Homo sapiens: one gene and its partner. The protein of the gene in region 1 interacts with the protein of each later gene in a biochemical or structural test. Each region holds a gene or a part of one and is shown in the gene's direction. Other genes may lie near its edges.

The links. The genes of interacting proteins can lie anywhere in the genome.
Region 2: of the proteins of GZMM (region 1) and DFFA, one has a biochemical effect on the other in vitro, tested with the Homo sapiens proteins (one study listed by BioGRID).

Annotation. Positions count from the first base shown.
Region 1 is NC_000019.10:547,023-550,542, forward strand, and holds the end of GZMM (granzyme M isoform 1 preproprotein), read left to right. Parts: intron 1-257; coding exon 258-414; intron 415-1,519; coding exon 1,520-1,655; intron 1,656-1,899; coding exon 1,900-2,163; intron 2,164-2,607; coding exon 2,608-2,769; 3' UTR 2,770-2,900; downstream 2,901-3,520. UniProt on the Homo sapiens protein: Cleaves peptide substrates after methionine, leucine, and norleucine. Physiological substrates include EZR, alpha-tubulins and the apoptosis inhibitor BIRC5/Survivin. Promotes caspase activation and subsequent apoptosis of target cells.
Region 2 is NC_000001.11:10,458,780-10,462,529, reverse strand, and holds part of DFFA (DNA fragmentation factor subunit alpha), read left to right. Parts: exon of another isoform or gene 1-827; coding exon 828-1,040; 3' UTR 1,041-3,750. UniProt on the Homo sapiens protein: Inhibitor of the caspase-activated DNase (DFF40).

The DNA of each region.
Region 1 (3,520 bases):
CAGTGGGGCCTGGGGAGGTCCTGGAGAGGGGATTGGGAGGTGGCCTGGGGGGAACATGATGGGGGTGATGAGAGGGGGATGGGAGGGATGAAGGGCAGCCCACACGTATCAGCCTAAAAGTTTCGGGGAACACTGGGGACTTCATTAGGATGGCACATCTGCTTGGGGTCCTGGGCCTCTGAGCTGGGCAAGGACAGTCGCAGCAGGCAGCAGGGGCATGTAGCCCCAACCTGGCTCTTTGTCCCCCATCCTGGCAGGCAGCTCCTTTGGGACCCAGATCATCGGGGGCCGGGAGGTGATCCCCCACTCGCGCCCGTACATGGCCTCACTGCAGAGAAATGGCTCCCACCTGTGCGGGGGTGTCCTGGTGCACCCAAAGTGGGTGCTGACGGCTGCCCACTGCCTGGCCCAGCGGTGAGTACCCTGCCCTGCCCACCCCAGGGGTCCGGGGAATCCATCCGACGGCGCCCATTCTCTGCAGGGGGTGGGCTCTGGGAGATTTAGGCCCATTGTGGGACCCCCGTCCCCTCCCGGTGACGACTTAGGCAGGTTTAAGTGACCTGCGGCTGTGGGACTCCTGGAGAAGGTTTACTCCTTGCAAGAGGCACTGGCAGGGCCAGCTCCTTCCACACCGCAGCCTGGGTCAGAGCCTGGCTCCTTTCACGGCTGAGCCACAGTCCTGGTGTGGACAGAGTGCATTGTGTCTGTCCATTCACCTGCTGATGGACCCAACTTAGGCGGGGGCTTCTGCTATAAGGAAGGAGGGTCAGGTGGGGGTGTTTGCCACCTGTGGCCAGGAGGTCGAAGCCGGCCTTCGAGAGTGGCTCGGGAATCGACCTGGTTCCCGGGGATCAGGAAGCCGCTAAATGACCCATCATGGAGTTGCCCTACCTCAGGACTGGTCCGTCATACAGAGCCCAGATCAAGATGGTCAAAGTAACAAAAAGGGATCTGCCGGCTTGTGTAACTGCAAAGTCTAGGAGGAGGCCTGGCTTCAGGTGCGGCTTGATCCAGGTGCTCACAGGAGGCGCTGTGGAGCCCATCTGTCTCCCAGCTCTGCTGCACTACCAGGAAGCCTGTCTCACAAGGTGGAAAGATTGACCCTCCTCAGTCCCATGGAAAGAGGGCTTGGCTCTCTAAAGTTGGGGCACACTTAGGAGGATTGGCATGTGTCAACCCCTGTACAAATCACTGTGGTTGAGCCTGGGGCCCCAAGTGAAGGGAATTCCCAGGGCTGGTTTTCGTGAAGCTGTAGGCTTGGGGTTGGATTTTTGGACACACAGCCCTTGCCTGGGGCCAGGGCCGGGCAGAAGTCTGGGGCAGGGGTGAGAGCAGGGAGGGCTTCCTGGAGGAGGTGGGTTGCAAAGACACAGGGAAGGACTGGCCAAGCCAAGGCCTGTGAGGGGCAGCGGCTGTGAGTGATGGCCATGGACAACGGGCACAGTGGGGGCCGGGACTGCATGTGGCGGGTCGTCCACGCCGGGCCAGGCCGCAGCACCCTGATTCCCTCTGTCCCCAGGATGGCCCAGCTGAGGCTGGTGCTGGGGCTCCACACCCTGGACAGCCCCGGTCTCACCTTCCACATCAAGGCAGCCATCCAGCACCCTCGCTACAAGCCCGTCCCTGCCCTGGAGAACGACCTCGCGCTGCTTCAGGTGTGCAGGGACGGGACAGGGAGAACTGGGCACCCTCCTGTCCCCCACGGGTGCCCCTCACCCCCACTGCGCCCTCCCCCCGCTGCCGACCCTCCCCCCGCACTGCTGCCCCTCCCCCCGCACTACTGCCCCCTCCCCCATTGCCCACCCTCCCCCCACTGCCACCCCTCCCCCCGCTGCCGCCCCCCGCCCCCGCACTCTCACCCCCTCCCCCTGCTCACCTGCCCCTTCCTGTCACTCGTAGCTGGACGGGAAAGTGAAGCCCAGCCGGACCATCCGGCCGTTGGCCCTGCCCAGTAAGCGCCAGGTGGTGGCAGCAGGGACTCGGTGCAGCATGGCCGGCTGGGGGCTGACCCACCAGGGCGGGCGCCTGTCCCGGGTGCTGCGGGAGCTGGACCTCCAAGTGCTGGACACCCGCATGTGTAACAACAGCCGCTTCTGGAACGGCAGCCTCTCCCCCAGCATGGTCTGCCTGGCGGCCGACTCCAAGGACCAGGCTCCCTGCAAGGTGAGGGGCGCCCGGGTGGGGCTGGGGGAATGAGGCTGGCGGGAGGGCCGGGGCCAGGGCAGCCGCCGGGCAGGTTCCTGGCTCTCCCGTTCTCTGGGGAGTCCTGTCAGGGGCTGGGGGGCGGGGAAGCACTGGCAGGGGTCCCGTTTCTCAGGTGCAGAAACTGAGGCTCAGACAGGTTTAGCAACCTGCGCAAGACCACACAGCCGGGAAGCGGCAGAGCTGTGACTTCTGCTCCAGCCAAGACGGTCCGGCGGGGGAAGAAGGAGCAGGGTTCACAGGGCCAGCGGGAGATGGGGAGGGGACACGCGTGGGCCGGGAGCAGCCCCTGTGTCTCCTTGAGCCTGGGGATAACAGGCCTGGCCCTGCTCCCCTCGGCGGGCCCTGCTCCCCTCGTCCCCTCAGCAGGTGCAGAGGCTGAGCTGCGGTGTGTCGTCCCTGCAGGGTGACTCGGGCGGGCCCCTGGTGTGTGGCAAAGGCCGGGTGTTGGCCAGAGTCCTGTCCTTCAGCTCCAGGGTCTGCACTGACATCTTCAAGCCTCCCGTGGCCACCGCTGTGGCGCCTTACGTGTCCTGGATCAGGAAGGTCACCGGCCGATCGGCCTGATGCCCTGGGGTGATGGGGACCCCCTCGCTGTCTCCACAGGACCCTTCCCCTCCAGGGGTGCAGTGGGGTGGGTGAGGACGGGTGGGAGGGACAGGGAGGGACCAATAAATCATAATGAAGAAACGCTCAGAGCCCGCCTGAGTCCCAGCCCACCTCTGTCCATGCTGGCTGTGGGGCTTCCGACAAACCTGTTTCCCTCAGCCTCCCGAGTAACTGGGTCTACAGGCGCCCGCCACCACGCCAGGCTAACTTTTGGTATTTTTAGTAGAGAAGGGGTTTCTCCATGTTTGTCAGGCTGGTCTCCAACTCTTGACCTTGTGATCTGCCCACCTCGGCCTCCCAAAGTGCTGGGATTACAGGCGTGAGCCACCGCGCCCGGCCCTTCCCTGTTTTAAAAAGGGAGGTTGTGGATCCCAAGGCTTCTCCCAGGAGGGGGCGGCGTTGGCCAGGACTGGAGCGGTGGCCGGGTCTGCAGGCTGGCAGGGGTGGGCGGCCGTCCTCCCCGCGTGGCTCCTGGGGCTGGGCCTTGAACAGCATCCCAGGATCTTCTTTTTTAGTAACAGCTTTTATCAAGTTACAACTCACATAGCAGATGAGTCTCCCTGTAAACTGCGATTCAGGGGCCTTTGGTACCTGCACAGAGCTGGGCAACCACCACCGTGACATGTCACCCCAGCACCCCGAAAACAGGCCCGTCCCCAGTCACCCCAGCACCCCGAAAACAGGCCCGTCCCCAGTCACCCCAGCACCC
Region 2 (3,750 bases), on another chromosome or scaffold:
TGGCTAAATTTCCTGAAGGTGGAGGACCTTAGAGTTGCTCCAAGTAAACTTTCCAAGGACTTCTTCCTGTTGGTGTTGTAAGAAAAGGCCCATGCTTGTCCGGGCACAGTGGCTTACGCCTGTTAATGCCAGTACTTTGGGAGGCCGAGGCAGGTGGATCACCTGAGGTCAGGAGTTCGAGACCAGCCTGACCAACATGGCGAAACCCCATCTCTACTAAAAATACAAAAATTAGCCTGGCATGGTGGTGGGAGGCTGAAGCAAGAGAATCACTTGAACCCAGGAGGTGGAGGTTGCGTGAGCTAAGATCGCGCCACTGCACTCCAGCCTGGGCGACAAGAGTGAAACTCCGTCTTAAAAAAGCCCATGGCAGGCTGGGCGCGGTGGCTCACGCCTGTAATCCCAGCACTTTGGGAGGCCAAGGTGGGCGGATCACAAGGTCAGGAGATCGAGACCATCCTGGCGAACACGGTGAAACCCCGTCTCTACTAAAAAAAATACAAAAAAATTAGCCAGGCGTGGTCGTGGGCACCTGTAGTCCCAGCTACTCAGGGGGCTGAGGCAGGAGAATGGCGTGAATCCGGGAGGCGGAGCTTGCAGGGAGCCGAGATAGTGTCACTGCACTCCAGCCTGGGTGACAGAGCGAGACTCCGTCTCAAAAAACAAAAAGCCCGTGGCAATTAATGGTAAAGGAAACCCGGCATTTCAGTGTAAAGAGGTAACATAAACGGATACTGCCTCATTGCACTCCCCAAAAGAGAGTCAGGAGAGCAGCAGGAGAGGCGCACAGAAGGCCCAGTTCTCAGGGGTTTTTATTCTTGCTGCAGTTGGTTACCAAGGAAGACCCCAAAGCACTGGCTGTTGCCTTGAACTGGGACATAAAGAAGACGGAGACTGTTCAGGAGGCCTGTGAGCGGGAGCTCGCCCTGCGCCTGCAGCAGACGCAGAGCTTGCATTCTCTCCGGAGCATCTCAGCAAGCAAGGCCTCACCACCTGGTGACCTGCAGAATCCTAAGCGAGCCAGACAGGATCCCACATAGCAGCAGCGGGAAGTGTGCCAAGGAAGCTCTGTGGCGTTGTGTTATTGGTAGACACCCTCAGCCTCATCATTTGACTACCTATGTACTACTCTACCCCCTGCCTTAGAGCACCTTCCAGAGAAGCTATTCCAGGTCTCAACATACGCCGTTCCACCAATTTTTTTTTTAGCCCCACCAGCTTCAGGACTTCTGCCAATTTTGAATGATATAGCTGCACCAACAATATCCCGCCTCCTCTAATTACATATGATGTTCTCTGTTCAAAAGTAATTGGCAGTGATTGGCCAGGCGCAGTGGCTCACGCCTGTAATCCCAGCACTGGGAGGCCGAGGGGGGCGGATCGTGAAGTCAGGAGATCGAGACCATCCTGGCTAACATGGTGAAACCCTGTCTCTACTAAAAATACAAAAAAAATTAGCCAGCCATGGTGGCGGGCGCCTGTAATCCCAGCTACTTGGGAGGCTGAGGCAGGAGAATGGCATGAACCTGGGAGGCAGAGCTTGCAGTGAGCTGAGATTGCGCCACTGCACTCCAGCCTGGGCAACAGAGCGAGACTCCGTCTCAAAAAAAAAAAAAAAAAAAGTAATTGGCAGTGACTATGGGCGCACTGCCTAACATTTAGCCCTGCCCCATATGGAACATGTTAAAAAAAAAAAAAGCCAGGCCGAGCGTGTTGGCTCACGCTTGTAATCCCAGCACTTTGGGAGGCCGAGGCGGGTGGATCACGAGGTCAGGAGATCGAGACCATCCTGGCTAACACAGTGAAACGTGTTTTTACTAAAAGTACAAAAAACTAGCTGGGCGTGGTGGCAGGAGCCTGTAGTCCCAGCTACTCGGGAGGCTGAGGCAGGAGAATTGCTTGAACCGGGGAGGCAGAAGTTGCAGTGAGCCGAGATTATGCCACTGTACTCCAGCCTGGGTGACAGAGTGACACTCTGTCTCAAAAAAAAAAAAAAAAAGGACAGGCACGACAGTGGCTCACACCTTTGATCCCAGCACTTTGGAGGCCGATGCAGGCGGATCACATGAGGTCAGGAGTTCAAGACCAACCTGGCCAATATGGTGAAACCCCGTCTCTACTAAAAATACAAAAATTAGCTGGGCATGATGGCGGGTGCCTGTAATCCCAGCTACTCGGTAGGCAGAGGTTGCAGTGAGCTGAGAGCGCACCACTGCACTCCAGCCTGGGTGACAGAGCTAGACTCCGTATCTCAAGAAAAAAAAAAAGTTTTGTTTTGTTTTTTTGAGACAGAGTCTCACTCTGTCACCTAGTCTGGAGTGCAGTGGCACATTCTCGGCTCACTGCAACCCCCACCTCCCAGGTTCAAGCGATTCTCCTGTTTCAGCCTCCTGAGCAGCTGGGATTACAGGCACGTGCCACCATGCCCGGCTAATTTTTGTATTTTTAGTAGAGACAGGGTTTTGTCACATTGGCCAGGCTGGTCTCAAACTCCTGACCTCAGGTGATCCACCCACCTCAGCCTCCCAAAGTGCTGGGATTACAGGTGTGAGCCACCACCCCTGGCCAGAAAAAAAAGCTTTTAAATAAAGTAATTGTCAGCTTAGGCAACATAGCAAGACCCTGTCTCTACAAAAAAAAAATTTAAGTTAGCCAGGCATGGTGGCACTGACCTATAATCCTAGCTACTCTGGAGGCTAAGGCGAGAGTATCACTTGAGCCCAGGAGCTCAAGGCTGATCATGCCACCATACTCCAGCCTGGATGATAGAGTAAGACCCTACTTTTTTTTTTTTTTTTTTAAAAAGGTAACCATCAAGGGCAATGAAAAGAAATGGTCGTATTTCCAATTCATTATCCTTATTCTGAAGATAGTACGGCAGAATTTTAAGCAGAGATAGTGGTGAAGATGGTGACATTATAGAGTGTTGACTATGGCCACAATCTTGTTTCTCCAGTTAATGAATTTTTTTATGTGTTTGTTTAAAGATACATATTAAGCTTGTAGACCATAGGGACATACGGAGAGTCCATTGCTAATATCTCACTCAGTATTGTGAAATTCTATCTCACCACCGTGAAACTCTTCAGTTTTCTAATTGCTTTATCAGCAGGGGGTATAAAAGGTCATGAAAGCAATTTCCACATGCTGTGGCTCCAGGTCTCTGGGTGTGAAGCAGAGCAAGCCTGGTTTGTCCTCCTCCTGTCTCCACACAGACGGCTTCTGCAGGTTTGGTAATCTACAGTACACTCCTTGCAGGGAAAAGGTGATGAGTCATCATGGACTTATTTGACCACTTTTTATGCATGCTTAGAGGAAAACAGAATACTGTTAAGAGATTCATCTGCTAGTTATTAAGTAAAGAAATATCACAATAGGCCGGGCGCAGTGGCTCACACCTGTAATCCCAGCATTTTGGGAGGCCAAGGTGGGCGGATCACCTGAGGTCAGGAGTTCGAGACCAGCCTAGCCAACATGGTGAAACCCCGTCTCTACTGAAATTATAAAAAATTAGCCGGGTGTAGTGGTACACGCCTGTAGTCCCAGTTACTTGGGAGGCTGAGGCATGAGAATTGCTTGAACCCAGGAAGTGGAGGTGGAGGTGAGCCGAAATTGTGCCACTGTACTCCAGCCTGCAACAGAGTGAGACACTGTCACACAAAAAAGAAAGAAATATCACAATATGTCACAATAGGCCGGGCGCAGTGGCTCACACCTGCAGTCCCAGCACTTTGGGAGGCCAAGGCAGAT